Regions from separate parts of the Homo sapiens genome. Here regions 2, 3, 4, 5, 6 and 7 are each linked to region 1. Evidence: fine-mapped expression QTL. A gene starts in region 1. Each other region holds a variant in brackets. All regions are shown on one strand. Distances are between the middles of the regions.

Region 1 (4,495 bases):
TCCAAACCACAGAATGCACAACGAGTGAGCCCTCCCAGGTGAGGACCATGAGCCCGTGTAGGTCCACAGATTGTAACAAACGCACCATTCTGTGGGGGTGATGATAGTGGGGGGCTGGGGATCCATGAGAACTCTCTGTACTTTCTCCTCAAATTTGCTGGGCACCTAAAACTGGATACCTGAAAAATAGAGTCTATTAAAGTTTTTTCCCCCCAAAACCAACACACACTTTAGATGTACAGATAACAGGCCAGGCGCGGTGGCTCACGCCTGTAATCCCAGCACTTCAGAAGGCCGAGGAGGGCAGATCACCTGAGATCATGAGTTCGAGACCAGCCTGACCAACATGGACAACTCTGTCTCTACTAAAAATACAAAATTAGCCAGGCGTGGTGACACATGCTCGTAATCCCAGCTACTCAAGAGGCTGAGGCAGGAGAATCACTTGAACCCGGGAGGGTGCAGTGAGCTGAGATCACGCCACTGCACCCCACCCTGGGCGACAAGAGCGAAACTTCATCTCAAAAAAAAAAAAAAAAAAGTATAGATGACAATTGTGTAAAGGGAAAATCAGAAAAGGAGCTTTAACGAAGGCACTGCCAGCAATTGAATCTAGCTGGAGGATACGAGGAAGAATCTCCTATTCTTCTACTTTTCCGCATGTTAGAAATTTTTCAAAGTAAGAACTTAAGGCCAGGCGTGGTGACTCACGCCTGTGATCCTAGTACCTTGGGAGGCTGAGGCGGGCGGATCACGTGAGCCCAGGAGTTTCAGATCTGCCTGGACAACATAGCAAGACCCCATTTCCACAAAAACGGTTTTTTAAAATTAGCCAGGTGAGGTGGTGCGCACTTGTAGTCCCAGCTACTACAGAGGCTGAGAGAGGAGAATAGCTTGAGCCCAGGCAGGTTGAGGCCGTAGTGAGCCGAGATTGCGCCACTGCACTCCAGCCTAGTAAACGGGGCAAGACCCTGTCTCAAAATAAAAAATAAAAACTTAAGAAAAAAAAGTGGGTTTCAGGATTCATTAGGAAAAATGGGAGAACATAGGAAGACTCAGTTTAAAATTCTCAAGGCTCTATCCAGAAACAATAATATGGCTCATCTTTGACCAATATTAGTTATTTGTAGCTTCTGCAGTTAACTCTGTAGCCACATATAAATTCTCATCATTACATTCAAGAAGAGAGCTGTTTAGAGTAACTATAACATTCTGAAATTAAAAAAAAAAAAGGCACGTAAGCACTAACGCTACCTAAAAGAAATTTCTCAGACAAGTTCAGATAGTAACCATATTTAAGCGCTTAACATAATCGGCTCCATTTTCCATGAGTTAGGAATGGAATTTAACGTTCATAGAAAATCTCTATCAAGAAGAAACAACTCCAGACCCTAAGAGAAACTCTTCTGCTCAGAAACTATTTCCAAGTCCTCGGAAGACAGGTACAAATCCTTATATTCCATTCGGCCTTAACAGCATCAGGAGGAAGTTGCCACACGTTTAACAGAAAGAGATATTTTATGATCCAGAATGCTGGATTTCTGACCTAAATTTCATTGTACATGAAAAAGAGCACTGCAATGGAAAAAGGGAGGGGGGGGGAGGGGGTGGGGGAGGGCACGTCTAAGGCACACAGGGCCCACCTGGGAGCCCTTTCAATTACAAAATTCTAGACATACCAAACATATCTCTACACTCGTCAGGTAAAGGCCTTTCAGTTTTCAGTACAAAGGACTTCTGCCGGCTTCCTTCAGAAAAATCAAGAATTTAAGAAAATACTTGTTATGCAAACAAACATTTAGCCCACTTAACATTGAGCTACGGTCGTCCAAAGCTGCTTAGTGTCCGCGAGGAGGCCGTCCGGATGCGCGATGATTCAGGCCTTCTCCGCCAGCTCCACCCGGGACGCGAGCACCCGGCGTGGACCTCTGCGTCCCGGGCCCACGACGCCCGCGCCGCGGGGTGCGCGCACTGCGTCCCCGCTCTCCTGGGACTGCGCCCCGAGTAACACGTGCAGGGGGCACTGGGTCCCCTGCAAGCGGCGAGAACGCCGGCAGCCCTGGCCAGTTAAGCGGGGAGTGGGTCCACGCGGACCACAGCGGCAACTCAGCCCAGGACGAGCCTCGGGTCAAGTTCTCCGACTCCGCACTCGGGCACCTAGCGGGCCGCGCCCCGGAGCTACGCGGCCCCAACCTCACCTGCCCGCCCAAACTGTGCCCCCAACTACCCGCACCTCCACCTGCGCGCCGCCCACCCTCGCCCTCCACCTGCGCGCCCCCGGCCTACTAGCACTCCCCACCTGCGCACCCCCTCACCTGCGCCTGGGCGGCGGCGGCGGCGGCCGGTGGCGGCCCCCCACGCAGGCCGTCCTCCTCCTCGGGGGGCTCGTCCAGCAGCACTCGGCCCCGGCCCAGCTTCCACATGGTCAGGCGGGCTCCGGCGTCCCTCCGTCCGTGCGTCGGGCTGTGGCTCCGCGTCCCTCCCGGCCGCCGGACGCTCTGCCTGCGGCTCCTGCGGGACGCGGGCCCAGTGGGCCGGGCGGGGCTAGGCGGGGGCGGGGCACCCCCAGAACTAGGCCCGCCCCCTCCCCACCAGGCCCGCCCCAAACCCTCCCCAGGACCCGGCCCGCCCCCAAACCATCCCCAGAACCAGGCCCGCTCCAAGCCCTCCTCAGGACCAGGCCCGCCCCAAACCCTTCCGAAGACCAGACCCGCCCCCAAACCTTCCCCAGGACCAGACCCACCCCCAAATTCGACGGGGCTCCGAATCCCATCCCCCACAGAAAGGTCAACCCCGGCCCCCTCCTCCCAGTGTGGTCCCCGCCACCGCCCCGGCGAGACCCTCGCCCTTCACTGTTCTACTGAACGACGTCCTCACCCCAGGCTACCCCGTCACCTGGTCCCCCCACCTTGACCCCCACCTACCCGCCCCTAGCTGCTTCCTCACCCGGAAACGCCCCCATCCTGAGCCCCCACCGAGCCCCTAGCCCTGCCCTATCCCCGGTTCCCTGGGTCCTCCTCTACCCCCGAGCCCCCACCCGGCCCCCGCAAATTCCCCTCTCCCGGTTCTCTCCTTCTCCCCCGCCGACCCCCACTTACTCCCGGACTGCCCCCTCCCCCCACCCTTTCCCAGACCCTGGCCGGAGGGCGTGGCCACGTCCGCTCGGGTCACCAAGGCAACGGCCGGGAGCGCAGTGCGCATGCGCGCCGCTGGCGCTCAGGCCGCGGCAAGGCTGAGGGGAAGGTGGAGGGGGCACAGTCCGCGGAGCGGCGCCTGTACCCCAGCGCTTCAGGGCATCCCTCGGGGCCTGGGCGCCGGGCATCCGGGACTCATCCCCTCCGGCGCCCGAGGTCGCGGGATAGTGGGGGCGCCGGGAGGAAGCCTCGCCCAGCCCTGGTGGGCGGTGGGGCCGCTGGGGCCTGGGGCGCCGCGGGCTCGGCCCGGACTGACGGCGGTGGGGGGCGGGGATGGGGCCGTGGTGCCGGGCCGCGCAGAACCCTTGGGACCCCCGCGGCGCCCAGGTTGGGGCTCAGGGCCCGGAGAACGTTTTCCCGCGTGGCTATGGCTTTGTCAGAATCAGGAGCGGGAGAGGCGCCCACAGATTCCTGAGGGCAGAACCGCCTGGTTCCCAGGCCGAAAGGAGCCGGCGAGGCGACCCCCGATCCCGGGACGGAGCCGCGGGAACGGGGGATTCTAGGCGTCCGCTCCCGCCCAGCAGGTTAATTTTTCCCGCGACGCGCTTCGTATCGCTTCTTACACCAAATATGTATTCATGTGTTCAGTCATGTAAAAGCGCATTTTGAAGGAGGATCCAGAACTATGAGCTCCCTTGAAAACTGCAAGCTTCGTAACTTTACGACTCTTAAAAAAATGAAATGTACATTTTGAGTTTCCCAGAAGTGATGAGCAGCAAAGCTTTTAAGATGAAAGGGGCTCTGAACTGCCTTTGGGAGATGCCGGCCAGGATCCCGGAGAACCGAGGGGGTGGCGCCCGTGCCCAAGGCCTGGGGGGACCTGGGGCCCTGGCGCGGGACGCACAGGGAGGGCGGGGGCTGGGCCTGGCAGGAGCCCCCAGCCGAGTGGGAAGAGCCAGATAATAACCTAACGATACTAACCTAACTATACCGTCACCCAGAGAGGAGGGCAGCACCCCTCCCACATGCCTCCCTCCCCCGGTGACCGCTAAACCTACCGGCCGCAAACATCACGAAATAGAATTAAACACTGGCGCCTACTAAGGACCACTCCACCCAGTACAAACTAAATTTGAGAGTTCATCTTCACGCAAATAATAAGAATGTTAAAAATGTATATATGCTCCTTTTCAAACAAGGCCTAATAGGCCTGGCCTCCTGGGCTAGGGGGCTTAGAAAATTGCAAATGCAAGATGGCATGGTGTGGCTCCGGGGTGCTGTCAAAATAAGCACATTGCAAGCACAAACTGATGAAAGTCAAAAACTATCAAACAGAGGTTGCAAAACAAAGTCAGGATCCA
Region 2 (4,548 bases), 36 kb after region 1:
TCCTCGGCACAGTCCTTTAAATTACTGTGAAAGCCACTGGGATATGTGACTGATTTTAAAGCCCAAAGTGCCACAAGCTGCCAGGATCATCCTCTGGGGCTTAACAGCTTCGTTGTGGCTATTGAAGGAAAATTGATCGTAACGAGTTGGAAAGTCACCAGATGTCCTCTATGACACTGAGCGCTGGAGACCAGGCATAGACCATGCTGGGTGCACCCCCGCCCCTGCCCTCCCACCAAACACCCCGCCAGGTTTGCTGAAGTCCACAGGAGACTGTTCAAGGCATCGTTCCAGACCCCTGTCCCTCGGCAGGTGAAGTGGCAGCACATGGCTGCCTCGCCATGAACACCCACATTTCCAGCTGTGGGTACTAAACTCAGGTAAAAATCGTTCCTCTCCCGAACTGGACCTTGCTAACAAACACATTCGCTGCCCAGACCACACTGTATCTTGAATCATGGTCCTTCCCCTCCTAGTTTTGGTCTCTTCCGTTGGAGAAGCGTGGGCCGTGTGGCCTCAAAGCGCCCCGTGGCTGGAGCAGTTAGAAACAGCCACTGTGGCTCCGTGGTTGCCATCGCCCTGCACTTCCTCAGGGTCCTTCGTGAGGCGACCGAAGGCCTCTGATGGGCACAGGGCTGTGGAGTGCAGCAGACACTAATGGAAATGGGATTGGCAAAGACACAGGACAGCAGCCCGTGGAATGCAGCTCTAACCCAAGCGACCTTGAGCTCTGATGCTGCTGGCACAGCCGCTCCTCTCAGGGAGCAGCTACCGAGCCTCAGAAGAGCATCTGCCACAGCCCCAAGCAGAGACTCCAGCAAGGAGAGTGGATCCATGGGGCCCTGTGGCCCTGGCAGTGTGGACAATGACTCAGCTCAAGACATGGGTCTGCTTGGGACCCCTCCCTCCATGGTGTGGACGCTACTTCCCCACAGCACATGGGACCAAGGACATGACGGTGCCAGGTACCTTGGTGCCATGCACCGAACGCTGTGTCCCTCACCTGGTCCCTGGTTGGGAGCATGGACTTGGCATCTCTATGTCCCCGCTGAAGGGATATAAGCCCCAGAGTGACCGGGCCATGTCTGGTCGGGGCCAGGTGATGGCTTCCTCATGACACCAGCATGCCGGCTCACGTGTGCTTGAGTGCCAGAGTCGGCTCCCAGAGGGCCCAGGACTCAGTACCACCCCCAGCACGGAGCCCAGCTGGGCACAGGTGATGGAGGTGCCCTCCGGTGACATGAGTGGCAGTGCCATTGAGGGTCTCAACATGCCAGTCAGCATGGCGGGGGTCACTCAGGCATAGCGTGTCAGTTGTGGGGAGGCTCCGTCCATAGATGCACTGCCTGAGGCCCGTCAGGCATGGTGGTCCTGGTCCTGTGTGTTTACTCCTCCTGTCTGAGGGCCACTCAGGGCACTCCGTGGTGCTCCCCAGAAGCCTCTCCTCACTTGCTGGTGCAGCCTCACCTGGGCTGCCTGTACTCCCTCCTCATGTCTCAGTCCCTGTGTGCTTGGCCCTGTGCTCACCTGTGCTCCTGTCAACACTGCAGGCTGGGAACTCAGTGTCCCATTCGCTGCCTGGTCACCCACATCCCAGGCTAAGTGCAGGTTCAGGAAGCGTTTGATGAGTGGCTTTGCAGTGTTCGTGCCTGGGTGTGTTGTGAGCAGCACTGGGCTCTCAACTCCACTGTCTTCTAACTCTGTTCTCTCCATTCCGCTTGGCGTATCTGTCCGTGGTGCTGTGGGAGCCTGCAGGTTGCCTCTCACTGCTGCGGGGGACCCGCTTGCCACGCGGCACCTGCCCATGCTTCCCACCTGACCGCCGCCCACATGCCGGATGTGCTGCCGCTCCACTGTGCTCACCAGCATTCAGGGCTTGACTTTACGGGCTTTTCAAGACACGTGGGTGTAAAGTGGTGTCTCACTGTTTTCATCTGCATTTCTCTCCTTTGCAGTAACTTTGAGGTTATGAGCACACACATGGTGCTTGTGTCTCTTGAACTGGCTTCCTGTGGTGGCTATCAAATGACCACGGATGCAGTGGCTTAAACACACACACTTATCTTCTCCCGCAGTTCTGGGGTCAGAAGTCTGAACGTGGGTCGGGAGGGGGGCGTTCCTTCCGGAGGCTCCAGGAAGAGCTGACTTCCTCACCTTTCCCAGCTCCCAGAGGCCCCACATTCCTGGGTGAGGCCCCACGTTCCTGGGCAAGGCCCCTGCCTCCCTCTGCAACGGCCCCAGGAACAGCCCGAGGCCCATCCGGATCAACCAGGCTCCTTTCCTCTCCAGGCACCCACCCAGAACCTCCGCAAAGGCCCTTGTGCCCTGACTCATCTCCACAGCTTCTGGGAGCAGGGACCCAGCAGCTCCGGGAGGGTCACATCTCACCACAGATACTCATCCATAGCACTC[G/C]TACATCCTTCTGTTGGGTTTCCTGCTTCTTGATGACTTGCAGGAACTCCTTGTATATTTTAAATATAATCCTGGTTGTCTGAAACACTGTAAGTATTTTCCCCCTGCATGGATGGGTTTATGAACTCTGCCTACCATAGACTTCACTGAGTGGAAATTATTAATGTTGACATAAAATTCTATCTTTTTTTTTAACCTTATGGATGCTGCTTTGGGATTCTTGTTTGAAAAAATATTTCCCAACCTACAAAGATCCTTACTTTTATTGTCCTTGTCTGTTTTTAAAAAAATATTTTTTAATTTTTTTAAAATTTGGAGATGGGGTCTATGTTGCCCAACCTGCTCTCAAACTCCTAGGCTCACATGATCCTCCCATCTTGGCCTCCCAAAATGTTGGGATTACAGGCATGAGCCACTGTACCCGGCTCCCAGTTTCATTTTTATTATTTAAGAAATTAACCTATCTGGAATCTACCTTTGCTTAAATGTTGTAATGTAGGACCAGTTTTATCCACATTGTGATTTTCTAAATACCGCTGGCCAAACTGTCATTCTCCCATTGTCCTGTAATGTCCTCTTCATCATTTACGTGGATCTACTTTGAACCCTCCTTTCCCTTCATCTACGAAGATGTTCCTACATCAGTACTATAGTTAATTTTTAAAAATTCATCATTAAAATTTTAATATATAACAGAAGAGAGTAGTATAAATAACCCATGTGTCCGTCTGCAGCCTCAACGATAATCGGTCTCTAATCTTTTGATGCCATGGCTGTGTACTGTGGCTTGTTATTGGTAGGTTATTTTCCTGCCTTGATCTCCAATGAAAGAGTTACTACATCTACTAATAGGCATTTTTGCTTTCATGTGCATCTTAGAACAAATTTATTGAAGTCATCAAAAAATCCAGCTAGAAGATGAATATTCATAGTTTGAAACACTTATAGCAATAAAAAAGAATGAGTGAAAATTGATTAATTAAGCATCAAACTCAACAATTAGAAACAACACAGCAAAATTAACTGAAGGAAACCAGAAGGAAGGAGCTAAGAGAGAAGCACAGGCTAATACAGTAGGAAAAAAGATAACAGGTAGACTAACAAACAAATTAGAAAGCCGATTCTTTGAAAAATAAAGCAAGATAAATTGATAGATAATGTTGCCAAGAATACAAGGTGAAAAAGCACAAGTATACAAAATAAGGAATGATGAGGTAAAAATAACAAGGAAACAGATGAAATTAAAAGCATCATGAGACCACCTGCTCAACGCTATTCAAATCAGCTTGAAATCCTAGAAAAATGGACGATCTTCTAAGAAAATATGGACCAAATGGATCTCAAAAGAGACGGAAAATCTAAGTTAGTCACTTTATTTTAAAAAAGAGGTGCTCACCACCGACACCCAGAAGCAACAGGTGCAAACATTTTTATGGGAGAATTGTAACAAACTTTAAATAGCGGATAATTCCAATAATTTAAAAAACTCTTCCAGAACAACGGAAAAGAACGTAAACCTCCAATTTTTTTTCTACACAGCGAATAACATTAGTGACCAAAACCTGAAAAGACTGCACCAAAAAGAAAACTACAAGTCGTCCCCAATCTCACCTATACATATCAATAAAAACGTAAATAAAATATAGTCTGTTATGGAGAATGGTCTAAGCAATAAATAAATACATAAAGAGAAAAAGAAAAATGTAGAAATACAGTAGCACATTTAAAATAGTGCAAGGTGATCAAGGAATGGCAGGATGGTTCTAAAATAGAGTATCTATTATTACAATTTATCATATTAATAATTCTGAGAAGAAATTACATCATCTTCAGAATTGTGGTAAACATATTTTTAAAACATTCCTTAATACTGAATAAAATGAGATAAATATTTACTATTAAAAACATATCTAATATGAAATATTAATTTGCTTGTTGGTTAGTACTTTCACTGGAATCAAGAAAAACCAAAAATACCCAGTACCAGCACTATTGAATAACATTATACTGGAGGCATCAGTGCATGAAATTAGATAAAAGAAACAACATAGAGCATACAAATTAGAAAGGAGGAGATAAGGTTGTTTACCAGTACTAAGACTGTATGTTGACATTTTCAATAGGGTACAAGACCAT
Region 3 (4,548 bases), 79 kb after region 1:
GAAATAAAAACTTAAATAAACTTAGATTTAACCAGCATCTACAGAACACTTCACCAAAAACAGCAGAATACATATTCTCAAGTACACATAAAACGTTCTCCACGACTGACAATATGGTGCATACACCATAAAATAAACTCGAATACCTTTAAATAGGATTGAAATCATAAAGTATATTGTCTGAGCACAATAGACTTAAATTAAAAATCAGTAATAGGAAGAAACTTGGGAAATTCACAAATATGTGAAAATTAAACAATACACTCCTAAATAACTAATGGATGAAAGAAGAAATTACAAGGGAAATTAGAAAAAAACTTGAGAAGGATGAAAATAAAAGCACATCATGCCAATATTTATAGACTGCAGCTAAAGCAGTGCCCAGAGGAAAAGTTATAGCTATACATGCTTATATTAAAAAAGACACTCTCAAATCAATAACCTTTCTACCTTAAGACACTAGAAAAATTTCTCACAACAAAAGATAAGTGTGTGATGTGATGGATATGTTAATTAGCTTGATATAACCATTTAACAAGGTATACATGTATCAAACATCACACAGTAAATATATGTAATTTTTGTCAACTATATGTTAATAAAAATTTTTTAAATAATTAAAATAATTAAATAATTAAAAAGAGAAAGGAGATAGAGAAGAGCAAACTAAAAACCAGCAGAAGAAAGGAAATAATCAAGATTAGAGCAGAAATAACTGACACAGAGAATAGAAAAACAATAGAGAAATCAACAAGACCAATGGTTAGTTCTTTGAAAAGACTGACAAAACGACAATCCTTTAGAAAGACTACGAAAGAAAGAGAGGGACTAAATTACCAAAGTTAGAAATGGAAGGGAGGACATCTTATAAAATAATGACCTTATAAAAGTAAAAAAGGATTATAAGTGAATAATATCAACAATTATGAGCCAACAAAGTTAAATACAATTCCTAGAAAAACATAAACTACCCAAACCAACTCAAAAGGAAATATATCTAAAACAATTAGAGATTAAATAATGTTAAAACTTCCTTGTGGCTGAGTGTGGTGGCTCATGCCTGTAATCCCAGCACGTTGGGAGGCCAAGGCATGACGATCCCTTGAGGCCAGTAGTTTGAGACCAGCCTGGACAACACAGTGACAACACCTCTACAGAAAATAAAAATGAAAAAAATTAACCAAGCGTGGTGGCATGTGCACCTGTAGTCTTAGCTACTTGGGAGACTGTGGCAGGAGGACTATTTGATCCCAGGAGTTTGAGATTACAGTGGCCTAAGATTGTGCCACTGTACTCCATCCTGGGTGACAGAGCAAGATTCTGTCTCAGAAAAATAAAAATAAATAAATAAATTCCTTGCTATGGTCTGAATGTTTGTATCCACCCCCCATTTATATGTTGAAACTCAATCAGCAAAAGGTGATGTTATTAGGAGGTGGGGCCTTTGGAGAGTGACTAGGTCATGAGGGCCCTGTGAAAATGAATAGGATTAATGCTTTTATAAAAGAGGCCCCCAAGAACTGCCTTCCCTTCTGCTACGTTGAGGATGCAGTGAGAAGACACCATATCTATGAAGCAGAGAACGAAGCTTTTCTAGATACTAAATCTGGTGGTGACGTGATCTTGGACTGTCCAGCCTCCAGAACTGTGACCAATAAATTCTGCTGTTTATAAAGCACCCAGTCTGAGGTATTTTGATATCACAGTCCAAACAGACTACCCTTGAAAACCCAAGCCAGACAGCTTCACTAGCAAATTCTATCAGACATTTAAAAAGGCAGGGCACAGTGGCTCACACCTGTAATCCCAGAACTTTGGGAGGCTGAG[G/A]TGGGAGGATCACTTGAGCCCAGGAGTTTCAGACCAGCCTTGGCAACATAGTGAGACCGTGTCTCTATAAAAAAATTTTTTTAAAAAATAGCCAGGTGTAGTGGTGCACACCTGTGGTCCCAGCAGCTCAGGATGCTGAGGTGGAAGGATTGCTTGAGCCCAGGAATTCAAGGCTGCAGTGAGCCATGATTGTACCACTGTACTCCAACCTGGGCAACAGAGGAGATCCGCTCTCAATAAATAAATAAATAAATAAATAAATAAAACATCAATACTAATCAATACCAATACTGTCAATACCAATCCTACCAAAAAAACAGAAGAGGGTTTAACACTTCCCAACTCATTTTATAGAACAGTATGACGAGAGATAAAACAGGCAAAGATATCAAAAGAAAACTACAGACTAATATTCCTTATGAATATAGACACAAACACTAGCAAACAACTTAAAACAATGCATAAATGGAATTACACACCATGAGTAAATGGAATTTATCCTAGGAATTCAAGGGTGGTTTGGCAACAATCAATGTAATAGACACCATATGAATAAAGTACAAAAACCATGTGGCTTCCCAATAGACGCAGGAAAGAAATTTGAGGAAACTCAACACCCTTTCATAATAAAAGGATGCTCAACAAACTAGAAATCGAAGGAAACCTCCTCAGCCTGATGCTTATGTTTATGGTCAATTGATTTTCAACAAGAATACTATAACAACTCAAAAGGGAAAGAATAGTCTTCTATTTTTTAATTTAAAAATTTTTGTTTTTTCCAGGTTTATTGAGGTATCAATGATAAAAATTGTATATATTTAGGTTATACAATAGGATGTTTTCATATATGTGTAGATTGTGAAATAATTACCACAATAAAGCTAATCAGCACATCTATCACCTCACAGAATTACCATTTTGTGTGCATGAAGAACAGTCATTTAAATAAATGATGCTGGAACAAGTGGACTTCATGCAAAAACATGAAGTTGAACCCCTTTCTTGCACTACACTAACACAAAGACTAACTCAAAATGGACCACAGACCTTAGTGTCATAACTGAAACTATAAAACTGTCTGAAGAAAACACAGGTATAAGTCTTCATGACCTTGGATCAGACCATGGTCTCTTAGATATGAACCAAAAGCACTAGTAATGGAAGAAAAAAGTAGATAAATTGGCTACATTAAAATTAAAACTTTTTTGTTGCAAATGATACCACTAATAAAGAAGACAACATACAGAATGGGAGAAAATATTTGCAAATCATATATCTAATCTAACGAGGGACTAATATCCAAAATAAATAAATAACTTTTACAACTCAATAATAAAAAACCCAACTGCAGATTAGTGAAGGATTTGAATAGACATGGTTTTAAAGAAGTCATGCAAATGGCCAATGAGCGCACGCAAAGATGTTCAACTTCATTATCCACCAAGAAAATGCAAATCGAAACCACAATGAGACATCAGCTCAAACCTGTGAGGATGGCTAGATGAGAAAGATAGATGATGTAAAGATTGGAGAGGATGTGAAGATATCGGAACCACTGAGATGAGGAACCAAGGAAATGCATACTTTCCTGATAAGGATGTGAGATGGTGCAACCATGTGGAACACAGTCCAGCAATTTCCCAAAAAGGTGAACACAGAGTCACCACACGAACCTGCAGTTCTACTCCTAGGCACAGACCCAAGAGAAACAAAAACACATTCACGCCAAAGCTTGTACGTGATTGCTCACAGCACAGTCTGTATCAGTCCTTTCTTGAACTGCTATAAAGAACTACCTAAGACTGGGTAATTTCTAAAGAAAAGATGTTCAATTGGCTCACAGTTCTGCAGGCTGTACAGGAAGCATGGCTGGGGAGGTCTCAGGAAAGTCACAATCCTGGCAGAAGGTAAAGGGGAAGCAGGCACGTCTTGCATGGCTGGAGCAGGAGGAAGAGAGTAAAGGGGGAGGCGCTACACACTTTTTTTTTTATATTTTTTATTTTTATTTTTATTTTTATTTTGTTTGAGACAGTCTCGCTCTGTCACCCAGGCCGGACTGCAGTGGCACGATCTCGGCTCACTGCAAGCTCTGCCTCCCGGGTTCACGCCATTCTCCTGCCTCAGCCTCCAGAGTAGCTGGGACTACAGGTGCCCGCCACCATGCCTGGCTAATTTTTTGTATTTTTAGTAGAGACGGGGTTTCACCGTGTTAGCCAGGATGGTCTTGATCTCCTGACCTCGTGATCCGCTTGCCTCGGCCACCCAAAGTCCTGGGATTACAGGCGTGAGCCACTGCACCCGGCCTACACACTTTTAAACACTCAGGCTTCCTGAGAACTCACTGCCACAAGAACAGCGAGGTGGATTCCACGCCCATGATCCAATCACTCCCACCAGCTCCCTCCTCCAACATCGGAGATTACAATTCTACATGAGATTTGGGTGGGGACACGAATCCGAACCATATCAGAGTCATTCACAATCACCCAAAAGCAGAAACAACCCAAATGCTTCCTATCCGATGAATAGATAAATAAAGCATGATCTACTCAAACAATGGAATAGTAGCCACAAAAAGGAAAGCAGTGGTTTATGCTGCAGCAGGAATAAACCCTGAAACCACGACGCTGAGTTAAAGAAGCCGGACAAAGGAGGCCAGGTAGTGTCGTGCCTGTCTACAGGACACGTCCACAGAAGTGGACAAATCTACAGAGACAGGAA
Region 4 (4,548 bases), 50 kb after region 1:
CATGAAGAACAAAGCCGTGGAGGTCACAGCAGCAGGCAGCCAGGTCTGGAGGAGATGCATGGGAGCCAGACATCCGCATGCAAGCGAGGAGGGCGCCCCCAGGAGTTCACAATTTATTTGTCAGCATGAAAAATCCCATCTGGAAAGGCAGTGACACAGAGCAGTAACTAACAAGGACAAAAAAGGGTCAAATAAGGAAAAAAGCCAAATGTATCTTTTCTGAAATCTCTCCCAAAATCTTGAGAGGAGGCTACATTTGTGGTACATAATAACAGATTATCTCTCTTTCTCCTCCTCCTCTTTCTGTCTCTCTGTCTCTCTCACACAGGCTACTCCCGAGGCTCTGCACCCAGCTGCTCCCCTCAGCACGTAGCCCTGAAGCCCAGTCAGCTTCTCCGATGCTGTTAGCTTCTCTCCTCTGCTCAGTACGTTTTATCTCCACCAGCGCAGCAGGGCCTGACCCATTGCAGTGTTGGGAACTTTAAGGTTTCAGGTTCATATCTGGTGCCAAAATTCACAGGATGAGGTTGTCTTTAAAGTCTTTCCTGGCTCTCATATTTTATGAGTCAGTTCTACGATTTTGGAGACAGGAGATATCCCGAACGAAAGCAGAGAGAACAAGGGTTGTAATCTATCTGGGTTTGAGAGGGAGAAGAGGAAAGAGTACTGCAGAGGAGGATAAAAGAACATAAGCCAGGAGCGCGCGGCGGTGCCTGTGGTCCCAGCTACCCTGGCGGCTGAGGCAGTAGTCAGCAGAGATCACGCAACTGCACTCCAGCCCGGGCAGCAGACCAAGACCCTGTCTCAAAAAGTAAATAAATAAAAAGGAACACATTGGAGGCTGGAATGTCCTGGGCACCTTGACTCTAGACCTGCCAGAGCACTGTGATAGGAGGGCAGTGAGGGGAGCGCTGTGAGGGGGGAGCTCTGTGAGGGGAGCGCTGTGAGGGAACGCGGGGAGGGATGTGAGGGAGCGCTGCGCCAGAGCGCTGTGAGGGGAGCACTGTGAGGGGAGGGATGTGAGGGGGGCGCTGTGAGGGGAGCTCTGTGAAGGGAGCGCTATGCCAGAGCGCTGTGAGGGGAGCACTGTGAGGGGAGGGATGTGAGGGGAGCTCTGTGAGGGGAGGGATGTGAAGGGGGCGCTGTGAGGGGAGCTCTGTGAGGGGAGGGATGTGAGGGGGGGCCCTGTGAAGGGAGGGATGTGAACAAGTGCTGTGAGGGGAGCGCCGTGAGCGGAGACATGTGGGGGGAGCGCCCTGACGGGAAGGATGTGAGGGGGGCCCAGTGAGGGGAGGGATGTGAGGGGAGCGCCATGAGTGGAAGGATGTGAGGGGAGTGCCGTGAGCAGAAGGAAGTGAGGGGGCACTGTGAGGGGAGAGATGTGAGGGGAGCGCCCTGAGGGGAGGGATGTGAGAGGGGCGCTGTGAGGGGAGCGCCACGAGGGGAAGGATGTGAGAGGAGTGCCATGAGCAGAAGGATGTGAAGGGGCGCTGTGAGGGGAGAGATGTGAGGGGAGCCCCTGAGAGGAGGGATGTGAGAGGGGCACTATGAGGGGAGGGATGTGAGGGGAGCGCTGTGAGGGGAGCGTCGTGAGGGGAGCGCCGTGAGGGGAGCGCCGTGAGGGGAAGGATGTGAGGGGAGTGCCGTGAGCAGAAGGATGTGAGGGGGTCGCTGTGAGGGGAGAGATGTGAGTGGAGCGCCGTGAGGGGAGAGATGTGAGGGGAGCACTGTGCCAGAGTGCTGTGACGGGAGCACTGTGAGGGGACTGTTGTGAGGGGAGCACCGTGAGGAGAGGGATGTGAGGGGGGCGCTGTGAGGAAAGGGATGTGAGCAAACATTGTGAGGGGAGCACCGTGAGGGGAGAGATGTGAAGGGAGCGCCCTGAGGGGAGGGATGTGAAGGGGGCGCTGTGAGGGGAGGGATGTGAGTGAGTACTGTGAGGAGAGCTCAGTGAGGGGACGTTTTAAGCACAACTCCTTGGTTTCACCTTCATCATTCTCTCCCTTCTTCCTCCACACAGGCCTGGCACTGGCATGGGTTGCTGAGAAGGCCCCTGAAGCAGCATTTCATCACCACCATGGCCTCCAAGAGAGCGGTGCCTCCTATGAGCCCTAGAGTGCAGGTTCTCCAAGGGCCACTGAGGCCCTGAGAACCTTCCTCTGCTCACCGTCAAGGTCAGCCGGGACCTCGGAAACTGGTGTTCCTCACTCTCCCTCTCATGTAAACACCTCTGGCTGACCTGGTCGTGGGAGCAGGCTCGGACCTGTGAGGCCAGGCAAGGGTCCCTGGTGAGAAGGGCCTGTTCACCTCCCCTGCCTCCTGCCAGTCACTGTGGTTCTCTCCGGGGTCATCATGGAAGTCTCCTTCTTGGTTCTTCGTCAGCCAAGAGTGACAGGAACAAGAACAACAAGAGGACCTCGTGCAAGGAGCTCCTGATGCCTTCCCCAGTCCATTTGTCCACCCCTTGGGTGGCTCAGACTCAAGCTGCTCTTCTCTCTACGTCTGCTCCTAAACACTGGGGGG[T/A]CATCACTCAAGGATAAGGGCTTTTTTTTTTTTTAACCAACAATATCTTTGCTCTAAAGCAAAGCAGGGCTAAGGATGGAGAGACAGAGACCTCCCATCTTTGCTCCTTCACCTGTCAATCAAAAGGGCAATAAAGTGATTGAAAAGGCATAAAAACAAAGCTCAGAGAGGAGAAGACAGGAAGACTCGGCCAGGAGGGAGGACTGAGCAATCTCAGGTAAAGCAGGAACAGGGAAGCCCAGCTACCACCCAGGGGATCTGCGCCAGACTCAGGAAACCTCAGAAGTCAGGGGTGTCAAGGAGCCCGGGTGATTGTGAGGCACCTCAGGCATGCAGGGGCAGCTGGGCAGTGAGGGTGGAGGACACCTTGCTGAGAGGGGTGAGTGGAGCCCCCCTGTGGAGAGTGGGATACCTCACCCACCTTCCAAGCTCCCAGAATGTCAAAGGCCAGGCTCATACCCCCAGGCAGGAGGTCAAAGAATTAAAGGACCTCTCTCTTGGCTGTGGAGGGAAAATCTACAAATGCAGTCTTTGGACTTAGGAGTCCCCAGTGGAAGAACTGGGCCATCTCCACTGCTGTGAGGTGAGGGCCACTCGTAAGCAAGCCCCCATACGCCTCCTACAGCTGTTGGGCCTTGGCTGCAGAGCTGTTGGGCACTTGGCTGCAGAGCTGTTATCAGCCAGGGTCCCAGCAGGAAATCCATGACACGCTCAAGCTTGGTAAATCGAGAAAAGTTTAATTAAGGAACTGCTATTGAAAAGCAATAATCAAAAAAGAACTAATGGCAAACGTGCAGGCAGTCTTGGAATACCATGGGAGAGCTGCAGTGCCCTGCCACCAGCACAAACTCCAGTCTTGAAGGACATGCCTGAGCAGTTAGTGGAACCCAGGAAGGCCACAGGACAGCAGGGATGCCCAGCAAGGCCTTCAGGAGAGGGATGCAGATGACTGGAGGAAACCTCTATGGGAAAGAGCCCGGCTGCATCTCCTCCCCACACACCATCCACTCCCATTGGAAGCACATGTGGCTGCTTCCTGCATGTGAGTGGGTTGGGGTGGGGGGTCTGTGTGGAGGATGCAGGCCAGAGACCCAGGGAGACCCTAACATGACACAGACCCAGAGAGAAACCTGGAGGAAGCCGAGTGGATGGAGGGAGTAGGACGCAGACAAACCTATGATATTCGCAGAGAAACAGGGTGGCCGTGAAATAAGAGCAGACACCGCAAAACTACACACAGAATCTTTCAATTAAAAGTAGAATAGACATAAATAATTTAATAGAAATGTTGAATATTAGACTCATTTACATCTCACAGAAACAGAATAAAAAGATGCACAGATGAAGAATTAGGGAGGAATGAAAAAAGAAATAGAGAATCAACCCAGAAATTCCAATACCCACTTAATGAGAAGAGAGACCAGAGAGGTCAGACAGGAGAGACCAGCAAAGAAATAACTCAAACAAGTGGTCCAGAACTGCAGACAGGAGCCCAGATTGAGAGAGTAGCGCATGCATGAAAGAACAGAGTAAAAACACCTGTGTCATCCACATCCTCATTGCTGAGACACTTCAGGCAGAGCTCACCAGCAGCCCAGGGGCCAGAGCCACAGGCCCCAGCACTCTCGTGGCAGAACTGGAATGGCTGAGACCTCCCTACAGAACGCTGGAGTCTGCAGGGCGGGAAGTGAAGCCTTCTCAGTTCTGAGAGACATTTCTTGCAGCCTAGAATCCTGGTCCCAGAAAGAAAAGGTCAAGGAGAGAATGGCGACGTCTCCAGACATTGCAGGTCTCAAAGGGTTCCTTCCACACAGGGTAACTCAGGCAGCCCTGAAGGTGAGGAGCAGGGAGACACAGGGAAATGTGGCCAGAGCCTTAGGAGCTGAGGCAGTGGGGGCCTCAGGGACGCCATGGCTGGACCTTCGATGTGCCTGATCGTCCAAGGGTCTTTCTTATTTCCGTTAGGAAGTATGTGGCTAGAACAGTGGTCCCTTCCTAGAAGTCTAAGGAAATAACAACTAAAAT
Region 5 (4,548 bases), 63 kb before region 1:
ACTCACCTGCTGGTGTGAGAGCAGACGAGGCTGCAGCCACATCAACCCTGGCTCTCCTATGTAACATTCACTCAGGACTGCCCGTGCCCCTCCAACGGGCTCAGCGCCATTCATGTTGCTTATCTGTTAACCTCTTCCCCAAACCCTGCTCTTCCAGCAGACGGCGCACACACTGTGCCACACGTGTGGCTGAAAGGATAGCCATGCGTGGGGATAGCCGGAGGTGCGGTCGCTCCCCAATTACTACATTTTCCCTCTAAAAACTTAAGTGTCACATTTCAAAACACCAGCTTCTTTAGCAAACCGGTTTTTCTGTACATAACCCAGACAGGCACCTCTCTGGGGCCCCCATGTCTACACAGAGTTGGGCACTGCCCTGGACTCTCATCTACCTGATGGACAGCTGGTGCAACTTTATCAGCTGTCAGCCTTAAATGAAGAGGCTCAGAAAATACGGGGAAGTGTCTAGCACATTCAAGCACACATTTTGAGGATGGCCACCTGGGGGATGGGCTCTACACAAACAGGGTCAGCGTTCCACAGTGGAAAGTTAAGGCTTCACTCATATAGGCAGGAGCCGAGATATCGCAGAGTCTTGCCGTTTTCCACAGACCAGTGTGTGCGCTATGGCAATATGACCCATTACAGATGGCTGCACTCCACAAAGTGAGGAGCAGTGATCTCAGGGGCCTCATCTCTGATGCATTTGGTCGTTTATAGGGAAAGAAAGGCAGAGGTTGCAGCTGTATGCTCCGTGGCTCCAGCTGCATAGCTGCATTCCTTCCAAGACTCAATATTTTTTGAGTGCTTTTTTAAATTTTAGTTTCAGGGGGCACATGTGCCCCTTTGCTACATGGGTATGTTGCATGGTGTGGGGTCTGGGTTACTTTTGAACTCATCACCCAAACAGCGAATGTAGTGCTCAATAGGTAGCTTTTCAACCCTTGTCCCCTTTCTCCTTCCCTCCTCCCTTTTGGAGGCCAGAGTAAAGTTCCAATGGCTTGAAGTTTGAATTAAGTTTGACTTACTGAGTTTCACACAGCTTTATAACCAAAGGTCACACAATCATGCTACCCCTTAGTGAGGAAAGCAAGGGGCTCTGTAGCATCTTGGCTGTTATGTGAGCCACGTGCACTAATGCAGCCTTCATTCAAGCTCTCCTCTCCTTCCTCCTCAATTCAGCATCTACCGAGGGGAAGGCGATGGTCTGTGACACAGGTCACACTTAACAGGATCCCTGTAGCATGGAAACAGAGCAGTGTCGTCTGATCTCAAGGTGGTTAGGATGTTTCCAATTCCCATGCAAATTTTTTTACTAGTTCCTCCCACAAAGCTGCTTACATTTGCAGGCGGGTTGGGGGGTGGAATCAAATGGTCTCACCTGCATTTTCACTGCTATGACCTCTTTTCTGGATCTGAGAGGGAGTACAGCAGGTACCTGTCCCAGGTGGCGGGCCACATCCCTGGCTCTCTGCTTGCAGAAGAGGTGCCAGGACACAGCCCTCGAGAAGCGTAGAGAGGGCACAACTGAGAGATGCTTAAGGAATAAGGGGAGCCAGGTTAAAGATCCAGTTGTTACCACCTGAGCCTAATGTTACCACTAATGGTGGATGTCAGACACTATGTGGCCCTGCTGTGCACAGGGGCCCAGGAGCTGCCCCGAAAGGAAGCAGCAGCTTGGATTAACCGAGCCTTTAGATCCAATTTCTTGTTTGTAGGCAGTGCTAAGGATGGAGGAGTGAGTTGAACACCTCAAACAGCAGTGTGTTCAGGAAAAGCTGCGAGGGAAGGGAGACAGGGGGCTCCTGTTTCCAACATCAAAAGATTTCAGAGATAGAACAGCCATATATGATGCACGATCATGGTTTTGGGAAAAAACAGCTAAAAGGTACATTCCAGACAATTGGGAACATATATATATGTATTAGATGATACAGGAAATTAATTTTGTTAGGTGTGCCAATCATATTTACTTATGCAGGCAGCATCATTTTTTTTTTTTAGAAATATATGTTGAAGTACTTGGGGGTGATACGGTGTCCGTAATTTACTTTTAAATGGTTAAATATATGTATGGACACACAAAGCAAATATGACAAATACAACCATTATTGAATCGCAGTAGCTGAGTTTATGGATGTCCATTGTACTACATACTTTTGCATAGATTTTATTTTTCATCATAAAAAAATTTAAAAACTGAAATGCTTGTCAA[C/G]CCCCCCATCTCGAAAAAGCCAAATTGAAATACACCTGGTTAATTATGAGAATTAACCACTATCTGAGGATTAAGTGTGATTTGTTTCCCTTCCTTCATCCCACTGGCCTCAGGAATGGAAAATACTTTAAAGGGAGAAAAAACTCAAACTGTGACCATGAGCCTCCACCCCATCCTGTCCTGTCTGCTTCTTGTGTCAGAGCCACTAAGGGAAAAATCACTAAGTTGTCACAATGGCTGGGTGCAGTGGCCTACAACCCAGCACTTCGGGAGACTGAGGCAGGAGGATCACTTGAGCCCAGGAGTTGGAGGTTGTACTGAGCCCTGATCATGCCACTGCATTCCAGTCTGGGTGACAGAGCAGGACCCTGTCTCTAAAAAGGTTTTTTAATAAAAACAAAAAATAAATGGTCACACATTCCTAAGATGCATTAGGCTTTGCTGGGAGATGGCCCTTCTAGTTCACCATTGAGCTTAGCATTTGCTGCTGTTAAAATTAGAATAACCTTTATTCAGGATGTGCTCCTCCAAGATGAAACGGATGTCCGATTCTGGGAGCCGGAGGAACACGCTGCAATGCACTTTCAGACTCTGCAAGGAAGAGTGGGCAGGCACACAGAATCTCAGGAAGACGGTTCAGGGCGGCGGGGACATTCATCATGTGTTTACCGTCGGCTCTGACAGCCCGGCTTGAAGCTTCCTTCTAAGGATAGAGACTGAGCAGAGACTCCATGTGTCCTGGGCCTCAGTGGATAAAATTAGAATATGCAGGAGCCTGGGCAAATGAACCTATGACCCTGGGCAGCTGGCAGACTTTAAAAGCGAATTCCAGGTACAAGTCTGTTTTTTTAAACATCTGCCCAAGGCTGCCATGGACCAAATTCCTAAAGATACCTTGTTGCCCTAGAAATGTCTCCAAAACTCAATACCCCACTAGTTTTCCTACTCTGTCTAGAGACTTGGCTCCCCCCTCCCCCAATTACATGACCTTCTTCCATCAAATCCACTCTCCACACAATGAAGAAAACAGCACCTAATTCTGATGAAAACGTCTGGCCATGGGACAAAGCCCCGCAGGGCCCAGCTTTGGCCTTAATGGAAGGCGGGGTTAGGGGTATGACACTAGCCCCCCGCAAGAGCTCTGCTTCACCTCACACAACCAACCTGGTCCTCACTCTGGGTGAGGTAGAAATGTCACTGGCTCTACTTCCTGTTGATATGGGGACATTGATCCTCTCTAGGGTTGAGAACCAGGATTTAGACCGAGAAATTGACTTTATGGCGTCAAGGGAGAAACAAGCAAGAGAAGAGCAGAAAATGAACAAAATGAACAGGAGGGGACCACAATGGACAGTGGTTCACAGATGAGGGCCTGTTTCAGAAGAAAGAAGAAGCCTCTTGGGGGTGGCACACAGGTGAGAAGAGCCATGGGTCAGGGCACCAAGGAGCCAGCCAGGTGAGCAGGACTCTTGGCGGCACAGGTGCCCCAGGATCTGCAAGAGGATTCTATGAAAGCGCATGCTTAAAGACGCTGCAGGTGAGCCTGCCCGAGAACACCTCCCACACGAGTTGCCCCACGCTCCCCAGGTTTGGCCCCTCCACTGGCTGTTCGGCAGTTCCAGCCCTGAAGCCCCTCGCCCCTCCTCACAGGGCCTCCCACCATCCGCAACCCTGTCCTCACCCACCAGCTTCCTCAGCAAGCAATTCTTTAAAGTGAATCAATTTTAAAGAGTATTAAGAATGTTATAGCATAGATAGCACTCGCGTTACAAAAATGAGAAATCCAAGAACTGAAGTTCAGAAGGCCCACACCAACCACACCCCCCGACTTTTCTCATGTAAACGGGAGGGCATTTCAGAACCCCACTGGCACATGCTGCCAGGGCAGGGCTCCTCCCTTCTGCTTCCAGTGCCTTCTGCTCCCTGGGCCCAGTGCTCAGCCATGGAAGGAGCCAGTGCAGCTGTCACACGGGCATCTCCTGTGGGCATCTTGTGAGGGGGGCTGTCATGCGGTGGCTGCACAGGAAGCAGCCGTGGTATCTGGGGCTGGGTGGCAGCCGGCACGGGACCCAAACCTGGGCCCTACAAACCCTGGGGACCATGTCCCAGTGGAAGCACCACCCTGGGCCAAGACCCTGAAACACTAGAGAAGCTTTGGGAAGGTGCTTTCATGTAGAATGGAGGGAGACAAAGTGGCTTCCTGGCACTTGGGTGGGAGGTGGCAGGGGCTGCATGCAGAGCTGGGATGCAGGCCTGAAAGCTGCATCTCCTCCACCAAGAGCACCCCAGACCCCGACCTCAGCAGCAGGCAAGGGTTGGGGAGGATGTGCCTT
Region 6 (4,000 bases), 100 kb before region 1:
CGCTCCTGAGAACAGATTTGTTAAAGAAGGTCCAAGAAATGACAGTGTTGTCACCACTCAGAAATGGCCATTTCCATTGAAGGAAGTGCTCCTCAGCTCCGCTGAGAGTCTGACCTCAGTTGAATTAAATTTGACCTTGTAACTGATGTTTTTAAGAAAAATTGAACATAGATTGCTGACGACGGTGGATAGGTGGTGTCAGGGCAGTTTGAGCACACTGGGAATATAAGGCTCCTCATTATACGGCATGCCAAAAAAAGTTTGTCCTCCAGGCAAGTATCCGAATTATATTGGAAGTTTGAAATGCCGGTATTGATAATAGTCTGCAAATATCCACTACCATCTTCATTTTTCTTTAATTCTCACCATATTTATCCTACCAACAAGATAATTTGTAGAGTATGACTAAACACAGCAACTAAGAATGCTTTTACCAAAATAAAATTATAAGTTGTGTAACAGTTTAGTTTCAGATAAAAAAGCAGACGTTCTTTCTGCCAGTGCTAGAAGTCAGTGAACATTTGACAGAGTCAAAATGGTTCCCAAGAAAAGCAGAGAAAAGGGACAACCCCAAAAATAGAATGACTTCTCACAGACCACTGCTTGAGCAACTTGTGAGCTGTAGGAGGGGCGCTGGTTCCTAAGCCTGAAGTGGAGGGCATGTTTTAATCCAGCCTGCATGAGGTTGTAGTGTGGTGCTTCCCTACCTCGGGGCAGCGGTGGGCGGGCAGTCCACACATTGCTAAAGGACCTGAGGAAAGTGGCTGGAGCGTCCAGAAAATTGATGAAAACTACAAAGTCTGCTTGGTTCTGCTTTGGCTTGCTAGATTACATCCCTTTTTTGTAAAAGACAATAAACTTGAGAAGTCTTTTTAAAATTAGATAATCAAAGTTGAGATCACTGAGGGCTGTGTCCAGCACACAGGCTAGCTGGGAAGCAGCAGAGCAGGAAGGCACAAGCACAGATTGTGGGATCCCCCTGCTCTTCAGGTCTGGCCCCTCCCTCCTCAGTGCTGTGGCCTTGGGGCCAGCTTCTTCATCTCTCCCTGCCTCAGTTTTCTCATCTCTAGAGCAGGGATAATAGTAAGACCTACCTCACAGGGGCATTACAGCATTGAAAGGGCATCAGGTACTTCAGATGGTGCCTTTCTAATAATCACTCAGTAAATGCTTACAGTTCATTATAAATCTGAAGGAACCCAAAGGCGAAGATTGAGCAAAGTTGATTTGGTCTGCCCAGTGAAGAATACTTTCTGTATTTTGTAGTAAGGCTGACTTTAAAAATAGAGGTAGTGGATGTTGTTGTTTCTCTTTCTCTGCCCTTCCCCATGTATGTGAGGCCCTTCAGGAGCACAGGCACACATGCAGTGCCAATTTACTCCCAGATCCAAGGGTGTTCAGGAGTGGACCTCGAATTTCAAATAGCTGTGATTTTATTTAACTTTATTGGATTCTAGTTTTATTATATTACCACCAGAGAGTTTGGCCTTTAAGATCTCTAATTCTTTGAAATGATTAAGTTTTCCTTTGTGGCCTTCTTTATAATTGATTTTTATAAATATTCTATTGATGTGTGAAAAAAAATACAGATTCTCTATTTGAAGGATGTACTTTCTTTCTCTTTATCTAATTCTTCCACATCTTTACTTGTTTAGAATTGTCAGATTTGAGGAGATACGCAGTCATGCACTACATAACGATGTTTTGGTCAATGACCGACCGCGTGTAGTGTCGTGGCCACATAAGATTATTTCCTTTTTTTACTGTACCTTTCCTATGTTTAGATATATTTAGATATACAGATACTTGCCATTATGTTACAGTTGCTGTTCAGTGCATTAATATGTTGTATAGGTCTGTAGCCTAGCTGTGTAGGTGTTGTGTAATACACTCTGTGATGTTCACACAGTGAGGAAATTACCTAGCAATGCGTTTCTCGGATCAGATTGTATCCCCCTTGTTAAGCGACCCATGACTGTATAAAAAACTTCCTACA[A/G]TATTTGTGTTTTTAACAAATGTTCATTAAATTCCCAACAGACTTTGCTTTATGGCTAATTAGAGGCTTATGAATGATTACAGTTTCTTTGTTAATTGTCTTTCGCCCTGTTATCTTAATTACCAGTTTAACCTGAAATGTAATCTTGTCAACTGTGAACACGGCCCTTCTCACCTCTATGCTTACCTATGCCTCGTGATGTCCATTCTGTAGTCCTCTGTGGGTAACTAGTCTAAACTGACCGTGCTAAGCTAATCCCTTGCCTTCTGCTGCTGATTTCAGTCTTTTTAAAAGGAATTTTAAAACATGATATTAAAGAAATGTAGAAAACTTATTTCGATGATAGGAGGGGAGGTAGTCGGGAAGACCTTATCTCCCAGGGAACACATATTCTCTGTTCTGGTATTTCTTCCCCTAGTGGAGCAGCAGTTCCAAACCCAAATGTTGTCTCAGGGGTCCTTTTCACTTTTTAAAATTACTGAGGACCCCAAAGAGATTTTGGTCATGTGAGTTATATCTATTAATGTTTGCCACATTAGAAATTAAAACACTTTTAAAAATATTTCTCCATTTATTTAAAAGTAAGGACTGGGCTGGGTGCAGTGGCTCACGCCTATAATCCCAGCACTTTGGGAGGCCGAGGTGGGCGGATCACCTGAGATCAGGAGTTTGAGACCAGCCTGGCCAACATGGTGAAACCTGTCTCTACTAAAAATACAGAACTTAGCCAGGCATACAGAAAACTACCGGGCATGGTGGCATGCACCTATAATGCCAGCTACTGGGGAAGCTGAGGCTAGAGAATCGCTTGAACCCAGGAAGCAGAGGTTGCAGTGAGCCGAGATCGCGCCATTGCACTCCAGCCTGGGGGACAAGAGTGAAACTCCGTCTCACAAAACAAAACAAAAAAACAGTAAGGACTGTATGTCTCACACCTTGGCACCCTCCTGGTGTCTGGTGTGATGGAGGGGATTATTCCTCATCTCTGCTCCTGAGTTCAGTCTTCCATAATGTAGCATGTCGGACTGTATGTCTCACACCTTGGCACACCCTCCTGGTGTCTGGTGGGATGGAGGGGATTATTCCTCATCTCTCCTGAGTTCAGTCTTCTGTAATGTAGCATGCTGGGGCCTCTGGAGCACTTCACTGCACACTAACGAATGTGAGGATGGAAAAGGAAAATCATATCTTAGTGAAACTGTGGAAATAGTTTAGACCTCGGGCTCCCCTAACAGGCCCCTAGACGATGCTTTGGGAACCGTGGTGGTAGAACTCTCTCTCCCAGACTCACTCTGCCCTGACCCCTCTTATTGGTGAGAAACAGGCATGTGTAACTCTTCTTTTTCCTTTGAGGAATAAAAGATATTTGTACATTTTGGTCTGTTTCTTTCATGTCTTAGTGCTGTAGGGCAAGAAGCCTATCTGGGGAGGCTTTGGTTATTAAGCAGTGCTTACGGCTGGCTGGCTTCATCTCAGTCTAGGATTCAGATTAGGAAATCCATTGTTGTGTGAATCTGAATCGCATCCGCCAGTCCAGCTATTATTAGCGATAATGCTGATAACCTCAGTTGGCCTGAATCCTTTGTCTCTAAATTGATTCTAAAGTGAGGCAGGGAAAAGGGGTGCTATTCAACACTAAAACAAGGAATTTAATAACAATATTCAGTTAATTTGAAAAGATAAAGGAACAGGATTGAAATTTTAACATTGGTCTTCTCAGCTTTGCTTGGCCTAACCTGATCTTATCTCTGGCCAGTGCCCTCAACTGGTGTGTTTTAGTGTAAGATATTTTTATGTAAATATGTTAGAAATCACAGAATGTTTTTTCCCCCAAAGATTATCATGTAATTGTCACATTTATAATGTTATTTGTGGCTCAGTATGTGACTTAGTGATTTCTCATTCTGGAAATCAAGAAAGGCTGGAAGGAGAATTGGAAGGAAGGGATGAAAAAACTCCATTTTCAGAGAAATAAGAGGCAGATGCAATTCACAGACTCTAAAA
Region 7 (4,000 bases), 110 kb before region 1:
AGCAATTCTTGACCATCTGTCTACATAAAAGGATTTAATTCTTGGTGTGAGTGAGAGAGTAGGATGGAGCACAGGAGGAAGTCGTTGGCTCCTGGTGGTTTCTGTGCTGGGTGCCCTGCTGTCTCATCTTTGGTCACTGACTCTGGAGAAGGTGCGAGTATTCTGTGCTTTGTCAGAGGGGGCATCCATAGACCAGGACCAGCATTTTATCAGTTTCAGTCATTTGGACGACTGCATAATTTTTTTTTTGTCTGTGTACCACATACTACTATAATTTGCTGGGTAGCTTTTCTTCAAATTTACTTTTCTAAACAGAAATACCTACTTTAGCCTCATCCTAAACACTAATACCTGTGAAATGGTAAATTTTCTGTCGGTCATTTGTCTAATACATATAAATGCATAACTATAAAAATTAAAATGTGCTGTGCACTCATGTACCAACTAAGCTTACTTTGCAACCCTCTTGAGAAGGGCTGTGTTTCTCCAAAGCACCTCTCAGATGTGGAGCGAGGGAACTGGTGAGCTCAGGAAGCAAAAGGGCTGCAGTGTTGCATGGCTGTCCCAGCACCCTCACAGGTCTGTGCATCTCTGTTGATTGCTGCCTTCCAAGCAGGGCCTTGCTTGGCTCATCTGTGCTCCTGCTCTGTGGGAATCCCACCTTCCCTCTCCTGAAGTCGCTCTGGACCTTGCACACCATTCTTCACAAGTCCAGCAAAGTTACCTCTAAAAAGTGATTTGCTCATGCTTACCTTCTGCTAAAAACAAAAACAAGAAGCAGCCTTTGTGACTGTGGTAAAGCCTGAGCCTGTGTCTTGCCTTGGATTGGGCTCCTCCATGTCCCCATCCCAATTCTTAACCTCCCTGGCCCATGCCCAGTGCCCTCTTCTGTTGGCTTTCTTTCAGTGTGTGCTATTTTTTTTTTTTTTTTACTTTATCGTATGCATTTATCATACATACTGTGCAGGTATTTGGTATTTTTTTGCTGTTTTAAATGTTTATGGCAACACTTACTACAACAACTGAGAGGATTGTCTTGTAGTTCTACTAAATAATTTGATTTTCCATAATTTAGTCTAAGTTGTCCATAATGTCACTCAGTATTATTAGAATACCTATAAATAAGAAATGTAGAAGCATTTTTTTAAAATGCTTGATAAAAGGTTTCCTTTTTTTCTAATGGCATTTAGTAATATCTGCCCTTAAGAATTTGTGTGAAAAACTTAATGTGTATCTTTTTTTTTTTTTTAGATGGAGTCTCACTCTGTTGCCCAGGGTGGAGTGCAGTGGCACGATCTCTGCTCACTGCAACCTCTGATTCCTGGGTTCCAGTGATTCTCCTGCCTCAGCCTCCTGAGTAGCTGGGATTACAGGCATGCACCACGATGCCTGGCTAATTCTTTTTTGTATTTTTAGTAGAGATGGGGTTTCGCCATTTTGGCCAGGCTCGTCTTGAACTCCTGACCTCAAGTGATCCACCTGCCTCGGCCTCCCAAAGTGCTAGGATTACAGGTGTGAGCCACCATGCCCAGCCTGTATCTTTCAACTAATGTTTTATGTAAAATCATTTTTTCCATCTAAACAGCAATTTTAAACTGAGACTAATCAATAATTACTACACAGTCTTAGGATAAAAGTTAGTAGTAGAATTTAGTGTTCAATTACAGATTCTTCCAGTTGCCAAAATAAAGTTAAGTAGTTTGGAATGGAAGTTTCGTTTTTACTCTAATCTTTGAAGTTGAGTTTGAGCCAGATGTCCTGTTGGAGGCATAAAATGGCCCCACCTTTTGTTCACTGTCCAGGGGCAGATGCTCTTCACTCAAGGCAGGAGGAGCCCATCAGTGCTGGCATCGCTGAGCACCTCCTGTGTGCAGATCAACGTACCTTGGCTTTTCTAACTTTCAAGAAACTTTGAAATCCAGTTCTAGTCACACTCCCACCATGAAATCTTCTTTGCCAGTGATCACAGGGTTGTGGCAATACCAACTCAAGCCTACCTGGCTGGGACCTTGGCCTCACCGCCCCCATCATGTCAGCAGCATTCCCTGGCCCTTAGGTGTGCCAGTGGCCACGTGTTTAAGTTGTCTGCGTCCCCATCCCAGTTGAGCCCCAGGAGCAGGGGCTTGGTTTGTTCACTGCTGTTCACCCACTGCTGAAAACAACAC[C/G]CCCTTTGTCAAAGTGGAGTAAGTGTGTCCCAACTGCAGTGAGGAGCTGCACTTCCATGAACTCAGAGGTGCCCAGCAAACCCAGGACAGCTGTAAACACAGAGAGGGAGACCAGTACCCAAAAGCTGTCTGGAGGAAGTAGAACTGGGTCCTGATCCTATAGGTTAATGTGACTGTGGTTTTTACACATTTGTTATCATTCCCTTGGAGTCCTGGGCTTGCTTATAGCACTGAGAAGAACAGCCTGCCCCCTCGCCCCTCTGGCAGCCAGGAGGTGGCTTCTGACAGCCAGGCACGAACAGCCCGAGGCTTGGGAGGTCCATGCAGGGCAGTGCACGGCGTGAAAGCTTCCTGAAAGCTGCACGGTGTGCAACTGAAATTTATAAAAATGTTAAATATGCTCTGTTTCCTAAAGTACACACATCTGTAGGAAAAAAGTTTTCAGAATCGTAAAGTTTATATATCTAATTTTGGTTATTTGATAAATTATCTGAAGTACTTCATTCTCTGCCTGTGGTGGACCAATTAGATAGCACATCCAGTGTCACATACTTCCAGGGGTACTGTATTTTTAGTTTAGTTTCTTGCCATCATTTATTTTTATGTTTTCATTTGCTTTAGATGTAGGCGAAGAGTCGGTCTCTCTTATCTTTATTCAAAAGTTTCTGTGTCCCTGGGCATTGCTCTGCCCCTCCAAGACTCCCCAGTCCTGTTTCCTTTAGCCCACCTGCTCCTCATGTCTGGAGATGGACTCCTGCTTCTCAGTATCCCAAGGATCTCTTAAATGTGGAAAGGTGGCCAGGTGCGGTGACTCATGCCTGCAATCCCAGCACTTTGGGAGGCTGAGGCAGGAGGATAACTTGAGCCCAGGAGTTTGAGGCCAGCCTGGGCAACATAGGGAGACCCTGTTTTTACAAATAATAATAAGCAAATAAGGAAAGACATCTCAGGCTAGAATCTCTGGCTATATGAAGATTTTTTTTCAAATTTTTTCATAATTTCTACTAATGACTACTCCATAGTAGCAACTTAATAGCAGCAGCCTCACAGCAGCGCATGGGAAAGATGCTTAGTGAGTGACCCTGAGCCCTCCCAGGCGGGGACTCGAGGGTGAGGCAGGGAGGGAGAGAGGCTCTGCAGCCACACAGCCGTTGTTGGAATTCTGTCTCTTTCTTATTTATTTACTCAGGGATCTCAAGCATATGACTTCATCATCACATCCATAGTATCTGGTAGATTTTAGCATCTACCTCAGAGCACTGTTAGAAAGATTAGATTAGTTCCATCATAGGAAGCTCTTGGAACAGTCTGTACTCTGTGTTAGCCACTATTTTGATTTTCTTTTGAGGAGGATTTAGGCAGAGGGATGACAGCTGCATGGAGATCCATTTATGACCCAAGAGGTAAAGACAAGAAAATGGGGCCCAGAGAGATGGGCTGAAGGTCACAATGGAGTCAAGGACAGAGACCAAAAACGTAGCTGTCCTGACAGCCGTGAAGAGCTTTTTCATTACGACTTTATTTCCTAAGTCTATAAACTTTGATTTTCCTCTGATGTAAATTAAGTGACTTTCTTAAATGCGTCATATGACTTTTTTTTAAATTTTTTAAATTATACTTTAAGTTCTGGTATACATGTGCTCAATGTGCAGGTTTGTTACATAGGTATACACATGCCATGGTGGTTTGCTGCACCCATCAACCCGTCATCTACATTAGGTATTTCTCCTAATGCTATCTGTCCCCTAGCCCCCCACCCCCCGACAGGCCCTGGTGTGTGATGTTCCCCTCCCTGTGCCCATGTGTTCTCATTGTTCAGCTCCCACTTATGAATA

The links. PIP is the estimated chance that this variant, and not a neighbour inherited with it, causes the effect.
Region 2: its variant is fine-mapped to the expression of TDRP in whole blood (INTERVAL, PIP above 0.99).
Region 3: its variant is fine-mapped to the expression of TDRP in whole blood (TOPMed, PIP 0.97).
Region 4: its variant is fine-mapped to the expression of TDRP in whole blood (TOPMed, PIP above 0.99).
Region 5: its variant is fine-mapped to the expression of TDRP in whole blood (TOPMed, PIP 0.98).
Region 6: its variant is fine-mapped to the expression of TDRP in lung (TOPMed, PIP 0.97).
Region 7: its variant is fine-mapped to the expression of TDRP in whole blood (INTERVAL, PIP 0.96).

The regions. Positions count from the first base shown.
Region 1 is chr8:542,335-546,829 of GRCh38, forward strand. It overlaps TDRP (testis development related protein), which reads right to left and starts at 2,500. Exons shown (of 3, transcript NM_001384899.1): 1 at 2,316-2,500. The coding sequence starts at 2,423. RefSeq lists an enhancer at 3,479-3,979.
Region 2 is chr8:578,187-582,734 of GRCh38, forward strand. No RefSeq gene overlaps it. Among named protein-coding and RNA genes, the nearest start is that of TDRP, 36 kb to the left of the region's middle. RefSeq lists an enhancer at 1-228. The variant G/C (reference allele first, on the strand shown) is at 2,413.
Region 3 is chr8:620,895-625,442 of GRCh38, forward strand. It overlaps a transcript of ERICH1 not described here. Among named protein-coding and RNA genes, the nearest start is that of TDRP, 78 kb to the left of the region's middle. The variant G/A (reference allele first, on the strand shown) is at 1,828.
Region 4 is chr8:592,095-596,642 of GRCh38, forward strand. No RefSeq gene overlaps it. Among named protein-coding and RNA genes, the nearest start is that of TDRP, 50 kb to the left of the region's middle. The variant T/A (reference allele first, on the strand shown) is at 2,524.
Region 5 is chr8:479,402-483,949 of GRCh38, forward strand. No RefSeq gene overlaps it. Among named protein-coding and RNA genes, the nearest start is that of TDRP, 63 kb to the right of the region's middle. RefSeq lists enhancers at 1-147, 148-647. The variant C/G (reference allele first, on the strand shown) is at 2,216.
Region 6 is chr8:442,984-446,983 of GRCh38, forward strand. The region is part of intron 5 of FBXO25 (F-box protein 25); the gene reads left to right. Among named protein-coding and RNA genes, the nearest start is that of FBXO25, 38 kb to the left of the region's middle. The variant A/G (reference allele first, on the strand shown) is at 1,997.
Region 7 is chr8:436,825-440,824 of GRCh38, forward strand. All of the region lies in intron 5 of FBXO25 (F-box protein 25), which reads left to right. Among named protein-coding and RNA genes, the nearest start is that of FBXO25, 32 kb to the left of the region's middle. The variant C/G (reference allele first, on the strand shown) is at 2,166.